7 linked regions of the Homo sapiens genome follow. The protein of the gene in region 7 interacts with the protein of the main gene of each other region in a pairwise test. Each region holds a gene or a part of one and is shown on either strand. Other genes may lie near its edges.

What was found.
Region 1: the proteins of PLEKHG4 (region 7) and FGD2 interact in binary tests that used the Homo sapiens proteins (3 or more experiments, as listed by UniProt).
Region 2: the proteins of PLEKHG4 (region 7) and TBC1D22B interact in binary tests that used the Homo sapiens proteins (3 or more experiments, as listed by UniProt).
Region 3: the proteins of PLEKHG4 (region 7) and METAP1 interact in binary tests that used the Homo sapiens proteins (3 or more experiments, as listed by UniProt).
Region 4: the proteins of PLEKHG4 (region 7) and PRPS1 interact in binary tests that used the Homo sapiens proteins (3 or more experiments, as listed by UniProt).
Region 5: the proteins of PLEKHG4 (region 7) and PRPF18 interact in binary tests that used the Homo sapiens proteins (3 or more experiments, as listed by UniProt).
Region 6: the proteins of PLEKHG4 (region 7) and TENT5D interact in binary tests that used the Homo sapiens proteins (3 or more experiments, as listed by UniProt).

What each region holds. Positions count from the first base shown.
Region 1 is NC_000006.12:37,022,384-37,026,367, reverse strand, and holds part of FGD2 (FYVE, RhoGEF and PH domain-containing protein 2), read right to left. Parts: intron 577-3,984; coding exon 430-576; intron 278-429; coding exon of another isoform or gene 43-277; intron 1-42. UniProt on the Homo sapiens protein: Activates CDC42, a member of the Ras-like family of Rho- and Rac proteins, by exchanging bound GDP for free GTP. Activates JNK1 via CDC42 but not RAC1.
Region 2 is NC_000006.12:37,274,511-37,278,537, reverse strand, and holds part of TBC1D22B (TBC1 domain family member 22B), read right to left. Parts: intron 1-4,027. UniProt on the Homo sapiens protein: May act as a GTPase-activating protein for Rab family protein(s).
Region 3 is NC_000004.12:99,002,099-99,006,125, forward strand, and holds part of METAP1 (methionine aminopeptidase 1), read left to right. Parts: intron 1-4,027. UniProt on the Homo sapiens protein: Cotranslationally removes the N-terminal methionine from nascent proteins. The N-terminal methionine is often cleaved when the second residue in the primary sequence is small and uncharged (Met-Ala-, Cys, Gly, Pro, Ser, Thr, or Val).
Region 4 is NC_000023.11:107,631,301-107,635,327, reverse strand, and holds part of PRPS1 (ribose-phosphate pyrophosphokinase 1), read right to left. Parts: intron 1-4,027. UniProt on the Homo sapiens protein: Catalyzes the synthesis of phosphoribosylpyrophosphate (PRPP) that is essential for nucleotide synthesis.
Region 5 is NC_000010.11:13,614,465-13,618,491, reverse strand, and holds part of PRPF18 (pre-mRNA-splicing factor 18), read right to left. Parts: intron 2,095-4,027; coding exon 1,939-2,094; intron 1,553-1,938; coding exon of another isoform or gene 1,511-1,552; exon of another isoform or gene 1,496-1,510; intron 1-1,495.
Region 6 is NC_000023.11:80,423,167-80,427,193, reverse strand, and holds part of TENT5D (terminal nucleotidyltransferase 5D), read right to left. Parts: intron 1-4,027. UniProt on the Homo sapiens protein: Catalyzes the transfer of one adenosine molecule from an ATP to an mRNA poly(A) tail bearing a 3'-OH terminal group.
Region 7 is NC_000016.10:67,285,705-67,289,731, reverse strand, and holds the end of PLEKHG4 (puratrophin-1), read right to left. Parts: intron 3,459-4,027; coding exon 3,369-3,458; intron 3,288-3,368; coding exon 3,066-3,287; intron 2,984-3,065; coding exon 2,813-2,983; intron 2,733-2,812; coding exon 2,555-2,732; intron 1,835-2,554; coding exon 1,718-1,834; intron 1,566-1,717; coding exon 1,332-1,565; intron 1,257-1,331; coding exon of another isoform or gene 1,244-1,256; coding exon 1,128-1,243; intron 930-1,127; coding exon 924-929; 3' UTR 252-923; downstream 1-251. Other genes in the region: BTB/POZ domain-containing protein KCTD19, read left to right, coding at 50-163. UniProt on the Homo sapiens protein: Possible role in intracellular signaling and cytoskeleton dynamics at the Golgi.

The sequences.
Region 1 (3,984 bases), on a different chromosome or scaffold from region 7:
GGAGTCCCTTCCAGTTAGAATGGAGTCTCCAATCTGTCTGACCTGGAGCGTCAGTGTTCCCATCTGTAAAATGGAAGCGGTGACACCAGCTCTTGGCACCCTGGGACTGTCGGGGCAGGACATGGGGACGTGAACATGAGCTGTCCAGAGGGGCCGTACTATCGGATGGGGACATAGAGGAAGTGCAGAAGAATGTGGACGACAGCCTGCAGCCAAAGGGTGCCTCCATTTGGTGACAGGCTCCACACTGCCTGGGCTGTGGCGAGAGGCCTGGGGTCTGTGGGCAGAGAGAGGAAGAGGGAGAGGGGGGAGGGTGTGACCATGGCTGGCTTGTTCCTCAGCACTGGACAGTGTCAGCCCAGCATGGTTGCCGGGCACACATTCCCTGAACAGAGGACGGATGGTGAGCGCGGGGACAGTGGCCCTCACCTCCAGGATGCCCCGCCTCTTGTCCTCCTTGGCCTCAGGCAGCACATTTCCAGTGAGGAATGCGTAGCAGTGGAGGCAGACTCGGTTGGGCCTGTTGTCGTCGTATTTCAGTTCGGCCCGGTAGTCGGAGCACCTGGCACACACCACCTGAGGAGGACACATAAGGGGGCATGGGGCTGAGACCAGGCACCGGAGGGCTGGGCTCCTGCCTTGGTGGGCAGGTGGGGGCATGAGAGCAACCAGGGACTGGGGGAGGAAAAGAAAGCTTCGAGGGAGGAATAGAGGCAGAGCGGGGATGCTCCCCCATGCTGGTGAGGCCCAACTGCCTGGAGGCTGCGACACATGGGGGAGCTCGGGCTCGGGGCTCTTAGGCTGAGGGTTCAAGACCCGGCCCCCACCGCGAGGGCCGTAACTTCTCTCCCCTCCAGGTTCCCTCCGAGTGAGGGCTGCTGTGAACCCAAGGGGCTTGCCCCAGACGGGCCACTGGCATCTGATTCACTTTTCCAAATGCTGTCCTCTCCGCCATCTCACCTGACTCTCCCAAAGACCCCACCAGGCAAGCAGGGCCCAGCTTTTGTCCTCTCCTGACCCTGAGAGCCACACTGTTACCTGGCAGACAGGCCCTCCACACACAGGGTGTGTCTTTCAAGTCCCACAGTTTAGCTTTAAGATTCAGGCAGACTTTGTATTCTGCGCCATCATGGAGTCAAGTGTGTTTTCACCTAAAAATGATAGGCTGGTTGTTTTTACATGGGTACTCTGTGGAGCGGGGCCCACTCTCAGCTCACCACGAAGACACCCCCCAAAGGCTGACATGGATCATGCCGGGAGGCTGGGTAAAAGGGGCCTGGGAAGACTCAGAGAGGAACACTGGGTGCCGCAAGGTGTGACTGCGAGGAAGACTTGGCTTTATGGGGAGCCCAGATGTGGGCGTGGAGATGGAGGGCAGGAGAAAGGGGCAGAGGGAGTGTAGTTCATCAGGCGGCACCAGCCTTCAGGGAGCTCCTCTGTGTGCCCAGCACAGAGTGTGGCCTGGCAGGGACCTGGAGAAGAAGGCCTGGCCCTGCCCCACCCTCACAAGGATTCCCGTCTGGCAGGCAGGGGAGACAGAAACTGGCACCCGAACCACCGAAAGGATGACTCACTGGCTCAGCAGGCACGAAGATCTGCACAGGCAAGAGAAACCCACGGTCAGGGCACAGCCCCACACGGGGGCTTCAGCTACCTCAGGAGCATTTTTTTTTTATTGAGCGATTTCAATGTTTAAATATAATTAGTAAATATTTTTTCCTCTACCAACGTTTAATTTTGAAAAATTTCCTACCGACAGACAAATTGAACAAATAATACAATGATACCACCCACTAGATTCACTAATTATTAACATTTGTGCCACATTTGCTCTCTGTCTCTCTCTATATGTATGTATTTTATTTTTTTCTGAACCATTTGAGGATAAATTACAGTCATCATGACACCTCACCCTTAAATATGTAGCTGGTGGTCTCCTAAGAACAAGGGCATCCTTCTACCTATCCACGGTGTCACAGTCACGCTCAGGAAATTTATTGATACAATATTATTATTTTTATTTTTTTGAGATGGAGTTTTGCTTTTGTTGCCTGGGCTGGAGTACAGTGGGGTGATCTGGGCTCACTGCAACCTCCACCTCCTGGGTTCAAGCGATTCTCCCTCCTCAGCCTCCCGAGTAGCTGGGATTACAGGTGTACACCACCACACCCGGCTAATTTTGTATTTTTAGTAGAGACAGGGTTTCACCATGTTGGCCAGGCTGTTCTCGAACTCCTGGCCTCAGGTGATCCGCTCACCTCGGCCTCCCAAAGTGCTGGGATTACAGGTGTGAGGCACTGCACCCAGCCAATACAATATTATTATCTAGATATGTTGCATCATCAAATTTCTCCCAATGGTCCCAAGAGCAACCTTGATAGCTTTATTTTACCCCAGAAAGAATCCAAGCAAGGATCATACATTTAATTTAGTTGTCAGAATATTTTCTATCTTAAGCTGGAAGGCAGCTACACAGGTGTTGTTATTCTTTGTGCCTCTTTGTATTTCACTATTTTAAGTAATTTTTAAAGAACTACTTTCACTCACAAGTGTGAATCAATTCAACTCTTATTTACAGAAGTGAATCACCAGGAACAGTAGCCAATCCCCACATCCTTTCTACCTGGCTTCGGGATGTAACTCATCACTGACATCTGAAGGCAGGTGTGTTCCCAGGTCCTAGAAACTGACTCTGTCCTGATTGCAGTTGAACACATTTTGGGGACACCTCCCTGACTGGCCCCAACCTGTCCAGCTAGACTCCTCCTGTCCTCTGGAGGTCATCAAAGACTGAGGTTGCAAAGGGCTTCTCTGTTTGCAGAGTAAACAGAGGGGGTTGTGATGTCAACAGAGAACAGCTCAAGTACAGGAGTGCTTAAAAAGCAAAGCGAGATCTACCTCTGGTAACTGGGCCTGGATTGATAAGAGGAGAAACTGTAGTGGACACAGTACCCTCCTCAAGAAGCTGGTAGCTCACCCGCACTGGATGCCCTGCCTGAGTTATGGAGGAGGGGGAAAGAAAAAGAGGAGAGGGAAGGGAAAGAATGTTTTTTGGTGGAATCCTCACTGCCACACTGGAGGTAGGTTTCACGATCCCCATGGCGGAGTTAAGGAGACTGAGGCCTGAACCAGTAGGCAGAGTTAACAACAGAATCCATCAGGTGCCAGGGTGCTGAGGGCTTGCAGAGAAGAGAGGACAGTTAGCCGAAGCGGGTAAAGAGAGGATGACGGGGTGGGTGAGTGCATAGTGGGCATGGGCCTGGTGAGGTGGTGGGGCAAGGCCTGAGGGGGTGCGGGGCTAGATGCCCCTCCACTAGAACTGGGGACCATTTCCTAGCTCTGGGTCTCAGGGTCGTGGAAAATGATGATAAGAATGCAGGTAAATTCATAGGATCAGCTTCAGGGGTACCTTCAGCAAGTAATTTAACCTCAATGGGTCTCATTTTCCCATCTAAAAAATGGGAAACAGCAGCCTCCTGAGGTGTGCTGTGAGGGCCAGATGAGGTAGTAATACACACACCTGGCTCAGAGCTAGTGCCCAACACCACTGGGCTGCATTGGTTGAAGCCAGCAGATTTGGCCAAGATGGGGACAGCAGCACCTGAGCTGGGTGGGTAGAGGCCCAGGTAGGGCAGGTAGAGGCCTAAGTGGGACAGGTAGAGGCCTGGGTGACACTGGTGGAAGCCAAGGTGGGGCAGGTGGAGGCCGAGGTGGGACAGGTAGAGGCCAAGGTGGGGCAGGTGGAGGCCTAGGTGGATCAAGTGGAAGCCTAGGTGGATCAAGTGGAAGCCTAGGTAGGAAAGATAGAGGCCTGGGTGACACAGGTGGAGGCCTCGGAGGGACAGGTGGAGGTGACACAGATGGAGGCCGAGGTGGGGCAGGTGGAGGCCTAGGTGGATCAAGCGGAGGCCTAGGTAGGAAAGGTGGAGGCCTGGGTGATGCAGGTGGAGGCCTGGGTGACGCAGGTGGAGGCAGGAGTGCTGG
Region 2 (4,027 bases), on a different chromosome or scaffold from region 7:
CTGCCCTTACCCCACCCCCATTTTAGACATGTAGCATGAGCAGGAAATAAACCTTTACTATGTTAATCCACAGAGATTTGACAGTTGATCTGCTATCACTTAGAGCAGCACATAAACTACTGGCAGAAAACAAGATAATTTTAGGTAGTCCACATATGTAGCATTAAACATTAAGTCCCAAAATAAAAAAGTTGTTCCATTTTTTATTCTGTTAAAAGTTCTTCTGCTGGCCTTGAGAAGAAAGTTGAAGTTTGGTGCTACTCTGTCTTTAAGACCATTTTCTAACTAGGTGCCAAAGTGACGGCAGCCTCAGAATCAATATATTTGCTAGCAACAAGATCTGCCTCTGGATTTAATAAGATTGTTTGGTTTTTCACTGAGTATTTATATGGTTCTTTTCTTTTAAGAGTCAGGGCCTTGCTCTGTCACCCAGGGTGGAGTGATGGAGTGCAGTAGAGAAATCTTGGCTTACTGCAGTCTTGAACTCCTAGGCTCAAGCAATCCTTCCACCTCAGCTTCCTGAGTAGCTGGGACTATAGGCGCACACCACCATGTCTAGCTTTTTTTTTTTTGAGAGATAAGGGTCTCATTATGTTGCTCTCGCTAGTCTCAAACTCCTGGCCTCAAGTGATCCTCTCACCTGAGCCTCCCAAATTGCTGGGATTACAGGCATGAGCCACCACGCCCAGAAGTTCTTCTTATTTATAACAAATGTTGTTTTCTATTTATAGAAATGATAATATTTGTTCTTAAAACAAGACTATTTGAGTGGCCAGGCACAGTGGCTCACGCCCGTAATCCCAGCACTTTGGGAGGTGGAGGCAGATGGATCACTTGAGGTCAGGAGTTTGAGATCAGCCTGGCCAACATGGTGAAACCCCATCTCTACTAAAAAAATACAAAAATTAGCCAGGCATGGTGGCGCATGCCTATAATCCCAGCTACTCGGGAGGCTGAGGGAGGAGAATTGCTTAAACCTGGGAGGTGGAAGTTGCAGTGAGCCAAGATCACACCACTGACTCCAGCCTGGATGACAGTGTGAGTGACACTCCGTCTCAAAAAAAAAAAAAAAAAGAACTATAGGAGACAAGTACCCAAATCAAAGAAAATAAAACTGAGGCTGCACGTTCTGGACTCATCCACCATGGCTGCTTCTCCTTTGTAAAAGGGGACCTGATCTACCACCTGCAGTACCACCTCAGGGGATTCGCTGTCGAGAACAAACATGCAGCTGTGTAAGAAAGATCTGTCATCTAATATAACACCCAGGAGTATGTGGTTATTACTGTTTTTCCTCCTTAGAGGCCACGTGTACATTAAGATTGCATAAATACTGGATGTTCTGAGAATTCTTTAATCAATCATCAAATCAAGAAGTTGAATTTTAACTCAGGTCAAAGAGCTGACTTGAAGCTGGTGGCCTAACACAGGGTGACACACACGCACACCAGGACCGGATGAACACACTACAGGGAGAGACGGGCCAGGCTGCCTGTCAGGTTCTAACAGGTGCTGACTTCTGAGAAAAATGAAGGCCGTTAACCAGCTGAGGGGTGGGTACCAGGGTGTGTGTTGTATTTTTCTTCATACGCTTTTTATGCATTTGAAGGTTTTCGTTTTATATATATATATATTTTTGTTTGTTTTGAAAAGGAGCCTTGCTCTGTCACCCAGGCTGGAGTGCAGTGGTGCGATCTAGGCTCACTGCAACCTCCACCTCCTCGGTTCAGGCGATTCTCTTGCCTCAGCCTCCTGAGTAGCTGGGACTACAGGCACGCACCACCATGCCCAGCTAATCAGGCTGGTCTCAAATTCTTGACCTCAGGTGATCTGCCCTCCTCGGCCTCCCAAAGTGCTGGGATTACAAGTATGAGCCACCATGCCTGACCAGTTTTCATTATATTTTTGAAGCAGATAATGATTCAATATATATTTGAAGTAGATTAAGATTGGAATTTACTCAAATGAAGACTTGCCAATAGAAACTGGGAGGACACTTTCCAACACAATGAAGAAGAAAGAAGGGAGAAAAGGCTGTCATTCCCCATGACATAAAGACATGAGATTCAAGGCAGACCATTTTGAGGCTGCTAGAAATGATTTTAAGGATACCTAGCCCACAAAACCCCAAATTCAACCAACCAATTTAAAAGTCAGCTCTGTCCTGAGGAAAGAGGCTTTCGTGGAGGAAGGGGTTGGTTTCACCTAGAAAAGGGGAAGAGTCTGAGGACAAAACAAGGTTGGTGAGAACCACCCACAAGAATGAAAGAGAAGGCTGGGCATGGTAGCTCATGCCTGTAATCCCAGAACTTTGGGAGGCTGAGACAGGCAGATCACCTGAGGTCAGGAGTTCAAGACCAGCCTGACCAACATAGTGAAACCTCATCTCTACTAAAAATACAAAAATTAGCCAGGTGTGGTGGTGCACACCTGTAATCCCAGCTACTCAGGAGGCTGAGGCAGGAGAATCACTTGAACCCGGAAGGCAGAGGTTACAGTGAGCCATAATTGTGCCACTGCACTCCAGCCTGGGTGATAGAGCAAGACTCCATCTCCAAAAAAAAAAAAAAAGAAAAAAAGAAAAGAATGAAACAGCAAAGCAAGAAGTGAAAGGTACTTTGGGTTACCACTGAGAGAAGGCAGAGAATCCACAGACCAGGAGCAATAAACAATGATGGGTAAATTTAAGGCTTTGAAGCTTTTCCATGTTTACTAGTTATGCTCTCTCCAGAGGAGATACATAAATTCACAAATAAATACATATAAATATTGGCTACTCACTAGCCATATTCATACATATTCATAATATTCATAAATATTGAATACTCACCAGACCCTATGCTAAATTTTAATATATACCCATTTTCTTATCTAATGCCCATTAATAATCCTATGAGGTGGGTATTTTTGTTAGTCCCATTTACAGATGAGGGAACTGAAGCCTACTGAGATCATGAGCAGGCAGTGAGGTCTGGGCTCAAATCCAGGTCTACCTGACTCCTGGGCCAGCATGTGCTACTAACTACTTACTTTACCTTGAAAAAAGCAGCTAAAAAGAAGAAGGTCAGGGCCTAGAAGGATCTGCAGCCTAGGAAGAGAAGTCGCCAAGTAAACCAAGCCACATACCACCACAGCTATAATTCTCCCCAACTATACACAGCCAAAAGCCCAACTCTCACACCCTGTAGGAAAAAAAAAAATCTCAACTTGTAGGAAAAGACTTAGGTCTGACACACATAGCCTATTCTGAGTAGACAGGAAAGAAGCCACATCTAGGCATGGGCTCCTTGTAAGAGAAATGTCACCCCTTTCTGTTGACCCCAGTAGTTGCAGCAAAAAGTTAATCCAGGTAACTCCAGCTGGGGATGCCTTCGGTTTATATACTCCATTTAAACACAGTCCCAGGTAGTTTACACTTAACTCAATGTAAAAGAATGCCACAGTGTGGCTTGAAGTCTAACCAAGATTATTTATTATTATTATTATTAAGATGGATTCTCGCTCTGTCTTCCAGGCTGAAGTGCAGTGGTGCAATCTTGGCTCACTGCAATCTCCGCCTCCGGGTTCAAGCGATTCTCTTGCCTCAGCATCTTGAGTAGCTGGGATTACAGGCGCATGCCACTACGCCCAGCTAATTTTTGTATTTTTAGTAGAGACAGGGTTTCACCAATGTTGGCCAAGATGGTCTTGAACTCCTAACCTCAGGTGATCTGCCCACCTTGGCCTCTCAAAGCGTTGGGATTACAGGCGTGAGCCACCATGCCCCACCCTAACCAAGATTATTTAAACACAACTCTATCAAAGTCACAACCAAACTGGCCTCTGACGAACACCTTCACCATACCTCCTTACAACTGTACGATAAATTATAGTTTAGAAAGCACCTTTGCAGATACCTCATGCAATCCTCACAAATCTGTGAAATGAGTCTTACTATCTCTATTTTATGAATGAAGAAACTAAGGCTTGGAAAGTTTCAGTAATGTGCCCAAGGTCATGGAAATGGTAAGCGGCAAAGAAAAAGAGA
Region 3 (4,027 bases), on a different chromosome or scaffold from region 7:
GGTGAATCTTTTTCATGTTTAGCATATTTGCAAAATTTTAGTTAAGTTTTAGTAAATTTCATAGGAGTGACAGACATAAGTGCATAGCTAAGCTCATTCCAGCTCTAGATATTCGGAAGAAAAGCAGTGGCACGGTAACTCCTTCTGTAATTGTCTTTGGTATTACTGCAATAGCAAACACTTTTAGATAGATATTAAATAGGCAGAAATACTTTATAAAGCAACCGTTGAGCTTCATTCTGTATCAAATGTTTAATGTAATGGAATATAAATGTAATTACAACCCTTTGTGCTTGATCCTGAACTTCGCCTGACCTCACAGTTTTAACATGAAGCATTCTTTTATTCATGCTTGGGCAGGTAGTGCTCCCAGCTCAACAATTATAAGTCTTTTCCTTTGATTTCCTTGATTGGTATCAGTCTTGTCTCTGGGTTTGAATAAAGAGCAATTCAAAACACTCTGTAAACGAGGCCTGCCTTTCTCATTGTGTGTGCATGTGTGTGTGGGGCACCTTATGGATGAAACTAGGATAGGGACCCCATGGAACTTCTCATGCTTTGTAAGTTGTAAATAAGTTCTCTCCTGTTTTTATCTCCAGTAACCTGACTTATTGCAAGGCTCAGTAAAGATTTCTTCCTGATACACCAGAGCTGTGCCATGTCTGTTGGAAAGCATTTCTAAAAACCCTGTTAAGGCCAGGCGCCGTGGCTTATGCCTGTAATCCCAGCACTTTGGGAGGCTGAGGCGGGCAGATATCTTGCTACGAGATCAGCCTGGTCAACATGGGGAAACCCCGTTTCTACTGAAAATACAAAAATTAGCTGGGTGGTGATGGTGCATGCCTGTAATCCCAGCTACTACTCAGGAGGCTGAGGCACAAGAATCTCTTGAACCTGAGAGGTGGAGTTTCAGTGAGCTGAGATTGCGCCACTGCACTCCAGCCTGGGCAACAGAATAAGACTGTCTCAAAAACAAACAAACAAACAAAAAACAACAAACCAAGAAAAGCCCCTGTTAATTGGGGTCTGCTATCTGCTAATGTGGCATTTATCTGGGTCACAGGCTCAAGCCTTTAAAGAGTGGTTAGGATATAAATGATAAGTGAAATTGTAACTTTAGCAACTTCCCTTATCATTATAAAGTGGGAGGCAACAGAGACTTCTCTGTGTTTTGAATGTGTGTTTAATGATTCTTCTGTGATTTAAGTACAAAACGCAAACCAATCTTTGCATCACATTCTGAAGGTTAACCCTGTCTTATCCAGCAAGTTACAGGCTTAGTCGTTCAATAAAATAGGTAAATGTAAGTTCCGTTAGGTTTTAAAAATGTCATAACTTTTTTTTGTCTTCTGAGTGGGGATTTATGTTATTACTGATTATTTCACTAACTGGTAATAGGGATGGGATTGACTATTAGAATACTGTTAACTTCTCACTCCACTAAACAAATGATAGAGAAAAATGTGAATGTTGTTACATGAATAATTTAATATTGCTTTTGAATTAAAGTTTTAAGGACCATAAAGTCAGGATCTGTCGATGTATGTTTTCTAAATTGTTTTTGATATTGAGTAGAATAAAAATATTAGTAAATGTTTGGGAAAAAAACTCAAACTTTTTTCCCTCTGTTCTCATACCACAACAGTCATCAACACAGATGATTTCTGTAACCAAACCTATGGGGGTTTCTCCTCACCACCAAGCGAGCAATCATTTCTGCAGTGGACACCAACTGGGTGTCCTTTAGTTCATTTCCTACACTGTTTGACTGGATATAGTGTCAGATCCCAGAGATAGAGGGCTTAGTCCTCGAAGCTGCCCCTTTCCCACCCTGTTCAGACACCAGTCACGAGTTTGGGCCTCCGGAACTTAAAACTTGACTGGCTTCAAGTTGGGGTTCTCATGGCTCCCCCTCTTTGGGTTTGGTTAATTTGCTAGAGCAGCTCACAGAACTCAGGAAAATACTTATTTTACTAGTTTATTATAAAGGATATTGCAGAGGATACAGATGAAGAGATGCATAGGGCAAGGTATTGGGGAAGGGATGCCAAGCTTCCATGAGTTCAGTGTTCAGCTAGCTATTTGGAAACTCTCTGAACCCAATCCTCTTGGGTTTTTATGGAATCTTCATTCCTTCAGGGTATATGGGGTGGGACCCTCTCTGGAATGAGAGTCTTATGACCCACATCACAAAGGTGGGGGTTAGACACTTGCCTTCAGGTAGGGTGAAAGGAAGAGAGCAGGAGAAGGTTGGAGAGAGTCTGTTTCCTGAGGCCTAAAGCACCCAACACTATAACGAGACTGCAACAAGGCTAGGGGAGTTATTAGCCAAGGAACTGTGGACAGATACACACACACACACACACACACACACACACACACACATACACACACACACACACACACACACACACAAAATAACACAGCAAATCATCCACGGGATCTAAAGAAGCATGATACAGTAAATGCCTATATACCTACCATCTAACTTATTAAAAAGAACATTACCAGGAAAACAAGTGAAAACAGAAGGCTCCTTTTTCTTTGTCCCTCATCCAAGAGGTATTCCATATCCTGAATTTTGTGTTTATCATTCATTTGCATTTCCATGTTTGATTTCTTAAAAAATGTATTTTTAATGTTTTTGAAATTTTTTTTACCAACAAAATGATTACATGTATTCTTTTACAACATGCGTTTTTTTGTTTGTCATTATGTTCCTGAGATTTATCCATGTTTCATTGTAGCTCTGGTTCATTTTCATTGTTTTCACTGCTATGTGATATTCCAATAAATTAATATATCATAACTTTTACATTCTTCTGTCAATGGAAATTTGGGTTGTTACGGTTTTTCTATTATAAATAGTCCTCCTCTAGACATTCTTGTGCCTGATTCTTGGTGCCTGTTTGTAAAAATTTCTCTTGGGTATACCCCTAAGGAGTAAATTTTTTGGGTCATAGGATATGTGTTTAGCTTTACTTTGATGATACCAGATTGTTTTCCAAAGTGGTTGTACTTCAAAATAAATAATTGGGACATAATTAAAGTAAAAAGCTTCTGCACAGCAAAAATAATAATAATAATCACAGTAAACAGACAACCTGTAGGGAGAAAATATTTGCAAACTATGCATCTGACAAAGGACTAATACCCAGAATCTACAAGGAACTCAAACAAATCAGCAAGAAAAAAAAATCAAATAATCTCATCAAAAAGTGGGCAAATGACCTAAATAGAATTTTCTCAAAAGAAGATATGGCCAACAAACATATGAAAAAATGCTCAATGTCACTAATCATCAGGGAAATGCAAATTAAAACCACAATGAGATACCACCTTACTCCAGCCAGAATGGCCATTACTAAAAAGTCAAAGAACAATAGATGTTGGCATGGATGTGATGAAAAGGGAATACTTAAACACTGCTGGTGGGAATGTAATTTAGTACAACCACTGTAGAAACCACTGGGTATCTATCCAAAGGAAGAGAAGTCATTATATAAAAAGACACCTGTATATGTATGTTTATCGCAGCACATTTCACAATTGCAAAGATAGGGAACCAACCTAAGTGTCAGCTGATGAGTGGATAAAGCAAATTTGATATATATACATCATGAAATACTCCCCAGCCATTAAAAAAAGAATGAAATAATATCTTTTGCAGCAACGTGGAAGGAACCAGAGGCTGTTATTCTAAGTGAAGTAACTCTGGAATGGAAAACCAAGTACCAGGTCGTCTCGCTTACAAGTAGGAGCTAAGCTGTGGGTACTCAAAGACATTCGGAGTGGTATAATGGACTTTGGAGACTCAGAAAGGGGGAGGGCTGGCTGAGGGTGAGGGATAAGAAACTACATATTTAGTACAATGTACATACTAGGATGACTGCACTAAAATCTCAGACTTTAGCATTAAACAAAAAACAAAAATGGTGGTACTTATAGAGAGTTTATGTTGTTTCATATGCTAGCTAGGACTTGTTGTTAACAGACTTTTTATTTTTGCCAGTCTGGAGTTGTGTAT
Region 4 (4,027 bases), on a different chromosome or scaffold from region 7:
CAGAAGCCTATGGCTCTTGTTTCAGTCAAGAACACAGAGTATCATCTGTGCTCCAGACATTCACTTGCCAGAGTCAGGATGTTTGATTAAAAGTTGGAGAACAAATGAACAAATGTAGTTTGACAATTGATATCAGACAGTATAAGGGACAAGCTATTCTGCTATGTTTTTAAAACTTTATCATTATCGCTGGGCACGGTGGCTCACGCCTGTAATCCCAGCACTTTGGGAGGCCGAGGCGGGCGGATCACGAGGTCAGGTGATCGAGACCATCCTGGCTAACACGGTGAAACCCCGTCTCTACTAAAAAATACAAAAAAATTAGCCAGGTGTGGTGGCGGGCGCCTGTAGTCCCAGCTACTCGGGAGGCTGAGGCAGGGGAATGGCGTGAACCTGGGAGGCAGAGCTTGCAGTGAACCGAGATCAAGTCATTGCACTCCAGCCTGGGAGACAGAGCGAGAGAGCGAGACTCTGTCTCAAAAAAAAAAAAAACAAAAAACTTTATCATTATCAAGTAAGACCAGAAAACAACATTCTTAGACCACAGTGGCTTATCTCCCTTTACAAATGCCTCAACTATCAGTCAATATAAAAAATACCCACAAAATTGTTATATTGTCCATGATGTTACTCGATATCACTATTTAGAGGTCTCACCCATAAAATTCTTAGGATTTTTTGCCTGGAAGTTTCTAAATAACTTTATGAAAATAAAAACCACATAATCGATTGCATATGCCTTTATCCCTCTGGCTGTCAGGAAGCCAAGGGATACAGTTAAAAAAATGTAACACTAGGCTGGGGCGGTGGCTCACGCCTGTAATCCCAGCACTTTAGGAGGCCGAGGTGGGCAGATCACCTGAGGTCAGGAGATCGAGACCATCCTGGCTAACATGGTGAAACCCCGTCTCTACTAAAAATACAAAAAAAAAAAAAAAATTAGCCATTAGCTGGGCGTGGTGGTGGGCGCTTATAGTCCCAGCTACTCGGGAGGCTGAGGCAGGAGAATGGCGTGAACCCGAGAGACAGAGCTTGCAGTGAACCGAGATCGCGCCACTGCACTCCAGCCTGGGAGACAGAGCTAGACTCCATCTCAAAAAAATAAATAAATAAATACATAAATAAAATAAAAAGTAACACTAAACTTTAGAAATTGTTTTATGCCAAATAGTTGCCACAATTACTGTAGTCCATGGTTCTATAAGGCTTCTGATACCTACCTTAACAAACGGTTTGTACTAGTGACTATCAAACATACTTCAAATCCTTTCTTGAAAGCAGGTGAGATACTATTTAAAAATTAAATTATCACTGCTAATTAAAACATCAAAGGGCATCTGATAAATATATAGCTTTAATAGAGTTGATTATTTTATTTTTTAAATTGTATTTATTTTTTTTGAGACGGAATCTCACTCTGTCACCCAGGCTGGAGTGCAATGGTGTGATCTCTGCTCACTGCAACCTCTGCCTCCCAGGTTCAAGTGATTCTCCTGCCTCAGCCACCCAAGTAGCTGGGACTACAGGTGTGTGCCACCACGCCTGGCTAATTTTTGTATTTTTAGTAGAGATGGGGTTTTGCCACATTGGCCAGGCTGGTCTCAAACTCCTGACCTCAGGTGATCCGCCTGCCTTGGCCTCCCAAAGTGCTGGAATTACAGGTGTGAGCCACCGCACCCAGCCAAGGTGATTATTTTTAAAATATACATATTCTAACATCACATAAGGCTTGAATAATAATTTTTTATAAATCACTTATCAAACAAAAAATAAAAATAAATAAAAATCACTTATCAGCTTACCACCCAATACAGTCGCTAGTACCATTTTTGTTATTATATCACTTAATAATCAATCAACAGCTCAGCTATTTCTCAAAGCCAAACTTTTTTTTTTTTTTTTTTTTGAGATGGAGTCTCGCTCTGTTGCCCAGGCTGGAGTGCAGTGGCAGGATCTCAGCTCACTGCAAGCTCCGCCTCCTGGGTTCACACCATTCTCCTGTCTCAGCCTCCCGAGTAGCTGGGACTACAGGCGTCTGCCACCATGCCCAGCTAATTTTTTGTATTTTTAGTAGAGACAGGGTTTCACCGTGTTAGCCAGGATGGTCTCGATCTCCTGACCTCGTGATCCACCCGCCTCGGCCTCCCAAAGTGCTGGGATTACAGACGTGAGCCACCGCACCCGGCTCAAACTTTTTAAAATTAAAAGCTACCTTCAGCATAGAAGGTGTTTGTTATAAGGCATGTATCTAATAACTTGAAAAGGTTATTTAACTGTTTAAAAAATGTGGGGCTTTTGAAAAGATCTTACAAAAATGAAATAAAAGTAGAGAAACTTAGAAAGCAAATACATAAATAAAATAAGGTGGTGCAAGTAAACTAGGTGATACTGCCTTGTTTTAATGTGTATAATTCTAATTTCACTTATTAAAACCAATCTTTCCCTATAGTAGTACTATAACATACAGACTTTGTTTGACAAAGTCTTAAAAAGTCCGTGAATTGCACTCTGATTATACAGCTTGGTTCAACAAGTCCTCTAAAAATCTTAACCTTATTCTTATGGCTTCTTCTAAGTTATGGCAGTGATCGAGAAGAATATTTGTGCCTAAAACCTGTTTGCTCCTAACATAATCTATTAAGTGGAAAAACCTAATTCAGCAATTTAGAGAGTAATACTCCTTGTTCTCTCCCTCTAGTTAATGGAGTGTTCTCCAAATGGCTTTGGGCCAATCATTCTCTCAGCTGTTTTGGTGAGGCCAGAAGACTGGCTATGTCTATCCAATGAGTGAAAAAACTAGCTTCTCTTTTCCCTTTCCTTTAAGGTCAGGCATAAGTGTATCCAATTGAAATGGAATGTCAGGAAACACCAAAAGTGAATCTAAAAGGTGGATAGTAGTCTTAAGAAAATCTGAAGAATTTAGATTATGGAGATATTGGCATGTGCAAAATACATGGGATTAACTAACCACAACCAGAAGATACAGTTCTCAGGAAAACCCTAGGCAACCAAAGTTCAAGTCTTCCTCCTCTCAGCTAGTACAGAATAACCAAATAAACCAAAGTTATTTACAAATATTGAAGAGAATAGAGTCAAAATTTTAGAATATCTAAGTTTTTAAAGCCAGGTGAGAGATCTTGTCAGCAAAAATTTAAAGGAACAATAATACCCAGAGCTGGGCAAGTTACTCTGCATCTTACTGTAGTTCTCTTCTCTGTAAAATAGGGATAGTAAGAGTTATTCCTCATAGCAGTTTTGAGGGGATTAAACACAATGTATACTAAATGCTTAGCATGGAAACTAGCACATCTTAGGCATTCACTATACATTAAATATTATAGCCGGGCACGGTAGCTCACACCTATAATCCCAGCACTTTGGGAGGCCAAGGTGTGGGGGATCACCTGAGGTCAGGAGTTTGAAACCAGCCTGGCCAACATGGTGAAACCCTGTCTCTACTAAAAATACAAAATATTAGCTGGGCGTGGTGGCACGTGCCTGTAATCCCAGCTACTCGGGAGGCTGAGGCAGGAGAACTGCTTGAACCTGGGTGGCGGAGGTTGCAGTGAGCTGAGATCGCACCACTGCACTCCTGGGCAGTAAGAGTGAAACTCCGTCTCAAAAAATAAATACATAAATAAATATTATTAATATTGTATTACTGCTGATGAGACAGATTTGTTCAACTTTTCTGGGGAATAATTTGGCAACAGGTATCAAAAGCCTGAAAAATGGTATCTACCCTTTAACTTAATAATTACCTTCCTAGGGATTTATTCTAAGGAAATAATCAGAAATGGTCAAAGATTTATGTTCATGGATTTTCATATAAAAGCATTAGATCAAAAACTGGAAATGTCCAATAAGAATTTGGTTATATAAAATTATGGCATAACCATAAGGTAAGACTATATAGCTATTTAAAATTACATGAACTAGCCCACCTCAGTGGTGCATGCCTGTATTCTCAACTACTTGAGAGGCAGAGGCAGGCAGATCACTTGAGCCCGCGAGTTTGAGGATGCAG
Region 5 (4,027 bases), on a different chromosome or scaffold from region 7:
ACCATGCCTGGCTAGTTTCTATTTTTTGTAGAAATGGGGTCTCGCTATGTTGCCCAGGCTAGTCTTAAACTCCTGGCCTCAGGCAATCTTCCCGCCACAGCCACTCGAAGTGTTGGGATTACAGGTGTGAGCCACCATGCTCAGCCTCTAATTCTTTTTTATATCCACTGCCCAAATTATAAGCTTAAGCAAAAGGGTATATGGGTCCAATTTTCTTATGGTAATCCTTCCTTCCTAAATATTGTATTTTTAGACTCTGCCCTTCTCTCTCGTCTGTCAAGAACTTCTAGAATAGCAGTTTCTTTTCCACCTTAACATACACTCCATCCCTTCTAGTTTCTTGCTGTCTGCAAACCTGATAAACCCATCCTTCGGTATAGCCATCCAAGTCAGTCATTAAAAGGTTCGACAGGACAGCACTGAGGTCCCTAAGACCCCTGACATACATCTCTAGCATCTACCCTAAGAGACACGAGTCCATTATTTAATGCTCCATGGCTTCCCTCTGTCAATGAGCTATGAGTCCAGCCTGATTTGCCCTATCCACAAGAATACCACTGGGTCTGCCTCAAACACCTAGCTAAATTTCAAATACAGTATGCTCATCAATTTTCTCTAATCACCTAGGGGGCAAAAGAAGAATTTTTTTTAATGGGAAGAGAACAGTTAAAAAGGAAGAACAATGGAGTAAGGACAGGTCATTACATAGCTTCCAAAATAAACCAGAATTCTTGAATAAATGCTAGGTATACTTAAAAAAAAATCACTCCTCGGGGAGGTGAAAATCACATTACTGTTTATAAGAAATGTCTTTCAGACGATTGATTTAATCATATGAACTTTTATACACTATACCTTTGGCCACAATATAGATGAACACAATTAGCAAATTTAATCTTTGGAACCTGTTTTCTATTGTTAAAGCTAAGCAACTTTTTTTTTTTTCAGCTAAAAGCTTCTGCCTTTAATACACTCACTGGTGGTTATTAAAAAATGGAAATGTGGTTGAATTTCCAGAAGTATATTTGAACTCTGTATACAGTTCACATGAGGGAGTCCGATTGAAATCATATTTTAAAAAGCTATTATATGTGACTAAGGCATAAAGCATGACACGAATTAACATTCAGCACTTGGAAGTGAAATAAAAACAAAAAGATATTTCATGAATATGGTAATGACTGTTCTCTGGCACAAAATCTGAAAGCACTTTATGCATTTTAAGTGAACTTCAAATTTTAAGTAAACTTCCGGAGTATCACTGTCAAGTTTTAGAACTATCATCCAGCAAGTCATTTTACAGACACAATCTGGGATTTATGACAATCTGGCAAACACTACATTATAGTCGATTTTCTTCCCACTAGGGAGAAAAGTTTAGCCCAAAAACAGTACCAACAAGTTTATGTGAAGCATGTATAACTTGAAGAAAACAAACCATCGGCACTTTAGACCTATTCACATGACTAAAGAAGTGTTGTTACGTGCTACGTACATTAAAGCCAAGTCTTTACTCTCCATACATCTTGAACCCAGTAGATGTTAGATTTACCTTGAAAGCAACAAAGCAGGATTTATTGTAAAATACTCTAAGTTTGTTGCTCTTCACTAAACTCCCACATTTCTCTGATGAGCTCAACTTTTACTTCCTAATACACGTCTTAAAAAAAAAAAGCAAACTGCAATCATTTTATTTCAGTGCTAAGGTAATTAAAGCACAATACTTCACCCTTGTCTTCCAACATATATGAAAGTTGAAAGGTTTTTACTTTATTCAGTGAAGGTGGCTTCAGTGTCAGTGCTTATCCAGAGGGGACTTCCATCCTATCACGCTATGTTCTATTTGCTGTAATTCTCTGCCTGCTTTCCAGACTTAGAGTTTTGGGAATTAGAGAATATTCACTTCCAGGGCAATTCCCGGCTCTCCAAACTGCTTACCTGAATATATTTCCGCTGAGTTTCGTCATTTAAAACATGTGCAACATGCTTGGAAAAAATCTTTTCTCTGCCAGTTCTGGCATGGATACCAACCATAGTGACACCGATGGGCCAAGGCGCATTTCCAATGGCCATCTGAAGATAAGCATCATTTGCCTGAAAGGAAAGTGTAAGAAGAAATCAGAAAGGCGAAAATGTTGTACTGGCTCAAATTCTTACTGAAAGTATTTCACAGCCCTTTATGATGTAATTTTCGTCCACCTTTTGGGCACATGGAAAATATTACCATGACTGTTATTCAAACAAAACAGATTAAAATACAGGGTAACAGACTGCCCTGCCCAGGACCACCAATGTCCATGGAAAAAACAGAAACCAAAGCTAGGTTGTGAGTAAAAAAAAGGCAAACATTCCTTTGCAGCCTTTGTATGCTGGAAATTAATATGTTGCAGATCTGGAATTACCAGGTAGGCACTTCAATGCACTGATGAAAATTCTAGTTTTGGTCTCCTTTAGACCCAGTCTTCTCCACAGGGGGTCATGTAGAAGACAGGGGCTAAGTAGTTTTTCATCGTCCAACCCTAAACAATATCCACTCCCTACACAGCACTGTGGCTCTCTGAAGGAAGTGGGGGCTCAGTATGTGCCGACGACCACACAGGGTCTTTAACAGATGTGTAAACAGAGAGGAAACACTGGCCCTCCAGTCGAATAGCTGAAGGATGAGATCGCTCCACTTTGCCCCCCACCCCACCCCCTACCTGCCAAGAACCGTTAAAGAACAGCCACAAAAAATGAAGACAGAAACCAATGAAGACAAAAGGCTTTTTTTCCTAACCAAGCCTGGCTAGCTGTGAGGAAGAACAAGAAAAACATAAAGCAAATAAATTCTAAAGGACCTCAAGGGTTAAGAGAAGCTTATAAAGCCAGGCCTCAAGGAGATTTTAATTTAAAAAAATCAGACACCTATGAGATTGATAGGGAGAGTCAATTTTTTTAAAATCAGATACTACAGATAGGGTAGCTGGAAGATCATTTTCTACCCTAAAGATAAATGTGAACTTGCTCTGCTCACCGGTTTTATAAAGCTTAATTTAAAAAGGGCCTATGTACATTTTTATCACTAATTTTCATGTGTATAAACTTTAACATTGGATCTTAACTGATAAAAACTGCAATATTTAGTTTCCCCCAAATTTCAAAGAAACTGTCTAAACAGGTTATTAAAGCTTCTTGGTTCTTTCTGTAGTTTATACAAAATAAGCTTGCACTTGCACTTAGTTCTGATATGTGATCACGAGAAAAAGCAGTAAGAGGAAAGGCATCCATTCTAGCAGGGAGTGATGTGCATTCTTCCTGCAGTGATGGTGACCTTATCCATCCATGCCAATGCAACCATCCTTAGTAAGAATCATGCAACTGACAGAAACTAAGAAGCACATTTATAACTGTAAGACAAAAAATATTTTCTTTGAGAAAACTGGCTGGCTCTTAAAAGGAGTAAAATCACTGCAGGAACCTCTTTAGCCTAAGGCTCTAATCACGTAAATCATCCAGTCACTCAGGAATGCCAGCAGTCCCTTGTTACGTCAGTATACAGATACAGCACTGGATAAGCAATGTCATTCCGAGTTCCCTACCGCTCTGGCACTGGCACTGGGGTTGCTGCACTGAAATGCTCTACTCCTAGTGCCTTGGGAGGCACGGCCACAAGAAGCCTCCCTCAAACTCTGTTCTTTCTTCATTGCCACTACTGGTGCATTGGGCCCTTCCCTTCTTGTTCCCCTGTACCAACTGACAGTCCTCCTCTCATCCCTTTCTAAACTCTATCTCAGGGAGCCCTGGACACCAGCACCCTTTCCCTCACCGCTGCCTCCCAGAGCCCATTCAGGAGTATAGACACTGGGGCAAGGGAGGAGAGACTTCCACTGCAGGGGTCTGCAACGCTGAAATGGGAGAGATGAGTCCTGGAAGCCTTGCTTGAACCATTTCCCCATAGAAACAATTACAAAGAGTGGTTAAATTCCACTGTACCATCAGTGCAACAGTTCAGCTATATTACAGATTAAAGGGGCTTTTATGACCATCC
Region 6 (4,027 bases), on a different chromosome or scaffold from region 7:
TTGCTAAGAGTTACCATTATAACATGTAATTAAGTCTACTGTATTAGTCTGTTTTCATGCTTCTGATAAAGGCATACCTGAGATTGAGAAGAAAAAGAGGTTTAATTGGACTTACAGTGCCACATGTCTGGGAAGGCCTCAGGATCATGGTGGGAGGCGAAAGGCACTTCTTACATGGTGGCAGCAAGAGAAAATGAGAAAGAAGCAAAAGTGGAAACCCCTGATAAACCCATCAGATCTCGTGAGACTCATTCACTATCATGAGAATAGCACAGGAAAGACCAGCCCCCATGATTCAGTTACCTCTCCCTGGGTCACTTCCACAACATGTGGAAATTCTGGGAGATACAAGTCAAGTTGAAATTTGGGTGGGGACACAGACAAACCATATCAACTACTGAAAATGGATTTACGTGCAAGGCGTGTGAAAACAGTAAAATGTGTTTTTACTAAAAAATTGTAAGAAGGCATGGAAATGTACATTTTGCCTAGGGATAAAGAATTTTCTTAAATAAAATAAAGCAGAAGATTTAAGCAAACTGTGGAAAAACTGTATGAATTAATCTTACCATGAAAACTCTGTATATACATGTTAACTAAATTCAAAGGAGTATTACATAGATTTTTCTTTAAGTTAAGCATTAAAATAAAAGCACAACAAGGTTTTCTTTTCAGTAAAATTTGTAAAGGGTTATAAAAGGTTTGTAAAAATCTCACTTCATGATCAAACCAGTGAAAATTAAATATAATTGTCCACAAGGTTTCATTAAAAATTGGGGTTAACATTAATAGTAAACTAATGCAAGGGTAAAATTTGGCTTTCTCTCTTGAACAGGATTTTTGTGTAATACTAAAGGCTAATAAAAGGCTTTTGATTTTTCAAATTTTTAAGTCATCATTTTAGAAAAATAAATAACTTATGGTAATCTAAAATTCCATTTCATAATATCAAGTGTTTTAAACCAATAACATATTTAATGGGCTTCCCAAAATAAATAGACTTTCCTAACACCTAGCTTTCGGATGCTACAGCGGGCCCCTAGAGCATCCAGAAAACAGGTAAACAGAATTATTAAAGATGTTTAAATACATGGAATTGCCAAAGTAATGTTTAATCTTCTTCAGGTTATATTTCAGTAAATATTATTATTATTATTATTATTTTTTGAGATGGAGTCTCACTCTGTCGCACAGGCTGGAGTGCAGTGGCGTGATCTTGGCTCACTGCAACCTCTGCCTCCCGGATTCAAGTGATTCTCCTGCCTCAGCCTCCCGAGTAGCTGGAATTACAGGTGCCCACCACCATGCTCAGCTAATTTTTGTATTTTTAGTAGAGACAGGGTTTCACCATATTGGCCAGGCTGGTCTCAAACTCCTGACCTTGTAATCCGCCTACCTCAGCTTCCCAAAGTGCTGGAATTACAGGCATGAGCCACTGTGCCCAGCCTTCAGTAAATATTATTAACATATGTTCTAAAACCATATGGGATGTCTAAAGTTCTAATGTTTAAATATATGCTATCAATTATAATTGAAATTATCTTAAACTGTTGTAAACCACAAAAATAACCAAATTTCTTTGACAATTGTGTTTCTAACTGTAAACACCCTGATCATTTTGTCATTTAAGACAATTGTCTTGTTTTAATCCTCTTCAAAAAATGTTTTAAACTCAGCTGTAAAACTTTAACAGGTGCTTTCAAATGCAGGTATCTAATAATGGAAAAGCATACAGGATTCATAAAAAGCTGAAATGTTTATAAATATCAAGCAAAACAAGAGTTAACTGAATGGACTGAACTCATAAAAAGCTAATATAATCTTTTTAACTTTTGCTTAAAATATTGCTAATCCTTGTTTTTCAGTCAAGAAAACTTATTTTAAACTAGATACAGCCTTTAACAATTAAGTGAGGTATACTCCTGAAAGCAAAATGTAAAACATGTTTGTTTCTCTCTGCCTGGTTCCTCTAAAATTCAGACACTACATGTAAGCATTCTTAACTTCTAACAATATATTGTTTGCATCAGTGCAATAAGAATGCATTTTCTTTTGCAACAGGACAATTTAAAAACTGGTGTTTTGCCAAGGGTTTAACTAAAAGGATGTGTTTCCCTTTAAGAAGTCAAGCTTAACTTGAAAAGCCAAAAAAAGCCCCTTGGAAAAATTGGCCTTATACTTTGTCTACACAGTCCCTGTACAGGGTTCTTAATCTGTGGTGAGTAAAAAAGTCATTTTCTAACAGGCCCAGAACACCATGCTCTTGAAACCTCAGAAAAAAAGGAGTTTACCCAACTCACAGGTATTTAAGGGTGCAAACCCATGGCTGGGCTCAGCTTTAAAAAGTCCTATCTAAGATTCCTTGTAAAACAGAGTTCCATCAAAGCCCATCTAAAAGGCCTATGTAAAGGTAATTATTCTTGCTGCAGTTTCTGTAAATAATCAGGCCAAGTATGAGACTAAAGTCTATTTTGCAAACAACACAATCTTATCATAATTTGTTTTTAACAAAAATGAGGACTGGAGAAAAAATTATGTTTCAAAAGTTATCATACAGCTGTCATTAATTTCTAGTCTCAGTAGTTGTTTTCAAGTTCTTGCCTACCTACATTTTAAACTAACCCTATTTCTGTAAATCAACCAGCAATCTCCAACTACCACTCAAAGGAAACAAAAGGGAATGGGTAATGTAGAAATCGAAAACAATACTCTAGTTCTGGGCAATTATCCCACAAGTCCTGCCAGGTAATAAAAGTAAATAAAGTTCGCATAACCCACAAGTTTCTTTGTTTAAAAAGTAAAACCAAGAAAGCTAACCGAAGCCAAGCCCCATGAACCCAAATCTTAACACGCATAACTAGCCATCACTTAGCCTTGGAATTTTTAAGCTTCTTTACCTCCATCCTTGTTTCATTTTAATACATGTACTCTAATAACCCACATTGTTTCTTCTCATCTAACGGCTATCAAGCTACAAATGGTAATGCAAAAGGAACCATGCATAAACATGCCTTTCTTCCAAGGACCCTTAAGCCAGCCCCAAAAGAAACCCTAGTTGCTGTTCCCCACACAACACCCATCTCCAGCAAAAAGTAGCTAAAAAAAAAAAATCAACGCTTAATCTCCCTAACAGCAGTTAGGGTCTCCACTCCTGAGGGGGAGAATAAGAGAGAAAAGGTGGCAGTTAGGGTGGGCCCTTGGTAAAACTCCTGTAATTGGAGAAACAGCCTGAAAAATCAGGCTGCAGGCACAGATAAGAAAACTTGCACAAACCTCTGGCCCACTCAGATAAAGAAACAAGGCCCAACCTTTGTTCTTTGTGCCTAAGACATGCCTGCAGCCACGGTAATAAGAGAACAAGACTCTGCATAGAAATGTCTTTGTCCTTTGTATAACCAGCAGGCTTCCAGGAAATAGTCTCTTCTCCTTATGTGGGCATGTACATGGGGTGCTCCAGTAGGTTCTGGTGGGCACTTTTTTTTTTTTCTTTTCTAAACATGCTTTAAACCGTAAGCTCGGCCTAAATAAATCATTGCTTCAGCTCCTAATTGGTCCCAGGGCCAAGGTCTTTGGCCAAGCTTTCACTTCAGCTTCTACTAGGTCCTGGGCCAAGCTAGGTAGCCCCAATAAATCATCACTTCAGCTCCTGATTGGTCCCAGACCAAGCTAAATCACACTTTCCTCAAAACAGCCTGCAAACTATGCACATTCCTTCCCATCCCGGTCCATAAAAACCCTGAACCCCGGCCTCATGGTGGGGAACCCCTTTGGGCCCCACTGTCTGCTGCAGAAAGCGTTCTTCTTTTGCTTATTAAACTTTCACTTGAAATTCACCCTTGTGTCCACGCTCCTTAATTCTCTTAAATATAAAAAAAAAACTCTGGATACTATCTCAAACAACAAAATACTGCTACATATTTTGCTTCATTGGGAAAACTACAACAGTAGTACTACTTCCCCTTCCTACTCTTCCTCTGCCCCTTCCAGTGGCTGTAGCTGGTAAAGATTTATAGCTATGTGAATTCAA
Region 7 (4,027 bases):
GTAGACAACTGGCCAGGAAATCAGGGATAAGACTGGCCTTTCCTTCCAGCTTACACTGCCCTTCGCCAGGAAATATGGCCGATGCATGGACCTGCTCATCCAGAGGGGCCTGTCTAGGTCTGTCTCTTACTCCATCCTGGGAAAGTACCTACAAGAGGACTAGGGTGCCCAGAGATGCAGCCCCTCATGCCCCACCCGCCAAGTCTCATTTTAATTGGAGATAGCCCAGAATGCATGTGCCCATCAGAGGGTACATATCAGTCTATTTTTTATTATAAACAAATAAAAGATTAAATCACACATCAAAGACCTAGACTCCTTCTCTGAGACACCAAAGGCCTAACAACCAGTAAGATAATTTTAGACAATTCTATTGAAAGTTATTCAAAAGGCATCAAGTCAAAATAACGAAACTGCCCCAGTAAAAAGGGGCTGGGCCTGGGGGCCAGGAAAGGCAAGCATGAGGGCCCAGTAGAGGTGGACCTGTCCCTATGGTAACTGAGCTCGGCTTTAAGGCCAGGCATTGGGGATCAGCTGCTAGGAGCCCACCTGTGTTCTTCCTGAGGGGTGGGGGCACCCTAGTCACTGCCTAGAGGCACATGGTCCCCCACCAGCCTACAGCATGGAAACACCCAATGTCTGCTCTAGCCTATTCTTAACCCACAACTGGGATGGGAGCTGGGGACAGGAGAAGGGGTCATGGGGCCAGGAGCCTATTCAGGCTCTACAACCAGACTTCCCTAGAGAGGCCCCGTGCCAGTTAGTCCAATGGCCACACACATCAGAAAGGGTAGTCAACAGCGTTGCACATGTAGGTTGGAGGTAGCCCAGGTGTCAGCCACACCCTGGTCACAGCAGATCCAGAGAGGCAATGTTCCTTGGAGCTGCAGGCTGCTGGATCTACTGCTCGTCCAGTCCCGGGCTCAGACCTGCAGGGCCAGGCCAGGCATGAATGCCTGCTTCCCTGACTCTGGACCCAGGAGGTGTCTGGGGAATGGCTCTGGCCCACCCACCCCAAGCTCTACCCAAAGTAAAGGCCTAGCCTGGGCTGGGGAGGGGCTGGTCACAGTCACAGGCTCAGCTTGGGCTGGGGAAGGGCTGGTGGGTATAGGGCAAATGGCACTCACACAGGGTAAGTCCTCCAGGCCCCTACCCAGGGCCTGCCCTGACACACAGCTGCTGTCAGAGCCACTGGAGCCACTGGCTGATGGGCATTGGGACGAGATCTCTGAGTCCTCAGCAGCTAGGGAGGGAGACTGGGTGAACTGTCAGCACGGGAAGCCCCAGACCCCAAGCCATGCCCTCCTGCCTCTGGCTAGGCCCAGACATACTCAAAGAGGGCTGGCCGCCCAGCTCTGCCTCAGCCTCCAGTGCTGCTTCCTCTGGGAAGCTGGGATACAGGGGACAGCGGAGACCCAGAAGAGCTGGGTCTCTGTACAGGTGCAGGTTGAGGGACCCCAGAACAGAGCAAGAGGCAGGGTCTCCAGGAAGGGAGTTCGAGGCCCCCAGGTAGAGGCTGTCATGGTCAAACGGGGCTACGGCAATGGACGCCCGAGAGCGAACTTCTGCATAAGAGAGAGGGTCAGGTTGGGACAGGCCAGAGCCTAGCCTGGCCCCAGATCCCAAGGAAAGTGCGGGCCAGCACTAATGGAGGGCCACAGTGCTTCCCGCACAGCTTTCCTACTCCCACCCCCACACCCTGTAGCCTGCCTGCTACCTCGGCACTTCAGGACATAGTTGACGGTGCGGTCGTTGATGGCTTCCTCGCTGGGAGCAATGTCTCGGAAGGCCTTGTTCCCCACACCCATGGACACCATCTCAGCCATGCGCACCTCTGGGTGGAGAGTGGACATAAGTGGGATGCTTCTGGACATAAGCCTGTCCTTGGGCCTCTACCACCCCCCAGATAAGTCTTTCCTGTACACCTCCATCCAGCACATTAACTGTCCTGTGAGCTGAGCCTTTCTAGTGCCAGGTGCTCTCCTCCCAACAATCCTGTGGGGCAGGTGCCATATTCCCCTTTTAAAGATGAGGCCCCTGGCTGGGCGCAGTGGCTCACGCCTGTAATCCCAACACTTTGGGAGGCCGAGGTAGGAGGATTGTTTGAGCCCAGGAGTTCAAGACCAGTCTGGGCAATATAATGAGACCTCTATGAAAAAATTTTACAAATTAGGCATGGTGGCACATGCCTGTAGTCTCAGCTACTTGGGAGGCTTAGGTGGGAAGAATGCTTGAGCTCAGGAGGCAGAGGCTACAATGAGCAAAGATCATGCCACTGCACGCCATCCTGGGCGACAGAGCGAGACCCTGTCTCCAAAAATAAAGAGAGAGAGAGCCATGATGCCCCTTATATTCAGAGAAGTTCACGTTGTGTCCAAAGTCAGAGGCAGTGACAGCAAGGCTGCCTGGCTTTGAAATCCTTTCTCCTGCACTGGTGGCTGTCGCTGGGCCTTCTCCCCACTTCCCGAGCTTTTCCCAGGTCTCTGGGCTCCTGTGGGTCAATGTAAGCTCTCCAGTGAGGGGAGTGTGGCGTGAAGGAGGGGCATGGACCCACCCTTGTTGTGGACGGCCTGCCTCCAAAGCAGGTGGGAGATGTCAGCTGTCCAGGCCTGCTTGATAGCCAGGCTGGAGGCCTGCAGCACAAAGGTGTCCCTGGCCTTGCGGCGGCGGAACCAGATCTCGAAGCGCAGGTTGCTGTTCCCACAGCACTCAGTGAGACCAAGGTCTGCCATCTGTGGCCAGCGGGAGAGAGGGGCTTGGTAAGGCATGGGGCGGGAAAACAAGTGGTGGGGCCTGGGGTGGGCAGGCCTACCTTGAAGGAGCGCTTGTAGGCAAATGTGTCAACCCCTGTGGGCCCATGGCGAGGCTTGCTGAAGAGCAGCAGCTCCTCAAAAAGGAAGATGCGGCGCACGGACTTGTGGCGCCCAGTGCGCACCACAAACTCATCCTGTCGCACCAGCTGCCCCTGTTCCTTGAGGTTAACCTGCAGAGTTGGGGGCTGGTGGGTGGCCAGCCTCTTCTGCCTTCTTCTTCACACCCACTGCCCTTGCCCTGGGATGACTCACATCACAGCCCTGGATGGCGTCCATGGCCAGCAGGTCGTTTCCGTGCCGCAGCTGGAAGTGCACAAGGCTCTGGGCCTCCCGCAGCGCACTGAGCTCCTGCGTGGGGCCCCCGCAGGCCCGTGCCAGCTCCTGCAGCAGCAGTGCGTACTTGCCCATGCGCTGGATGGGCTTTAGCAGGTAGGAGGCCAGGTCCAGGTGGTCCCCCAGTGCTTGCTGCTTGTCCTGTGGGCGGATGGGAGGCCACTGAGTGGTTTGGGGGCACTCCCCGCATCCCCTACTCCTCCTAATCTCAGGTTCACTTACCTTGAAGAAGGTGTGCCCATAGCTTGACATCAGGGCATCGGAGCGAGGCTTATTCTTGCTGTAGAGCGCGTACATCCCAAACTGCACCCTCTACAAGGACATGTGGCTCAGCCCCAGTGCAAAGGGGCCAGCTCCCTAAGGCTGGCACAGGCTAGACCACCCTCAGCTTGAGAGGACCAAAATGCCAGTAGATGCCTCTTAGGGAGGCCTCCCCTACAGACCCAGTCTTCCCTGCTTTGAACAAGGGGTGATTTGGCAAGAACAGTACTGGGCAAAGGGGGTGTGCCCACAGGCCCCCAAGGAAGAAGCCCCTTGCCCTCAGACTGAGCTCCTGCCTTCAGCTCTGCTCCTCCCACGGCTCTAAGAGCTCACCTCACCTGGGACTGTCCTGCTCACTACACTCAGCCACCTCCTTGGCAGGCCCCCTTTCCTCCACACGACCTTGTACTTGCTCTTTCCTCTGGGTGGGACACTCACTCCAGCCCCTCCCCTATTCCTCAGCTTAAACATCAGCCTCTCAAAGACTTCCTCTTGTACCAGGTGTCCTGGCACCGCACTCAGGCCCTCTAAAGTGGAGCCCCTGCCCCGCCAGTAATTCACAAGCATCTATCCTGCTTATTTTCCTCCTAGCCCCAACTATAATCTACAAGTATCGTTCT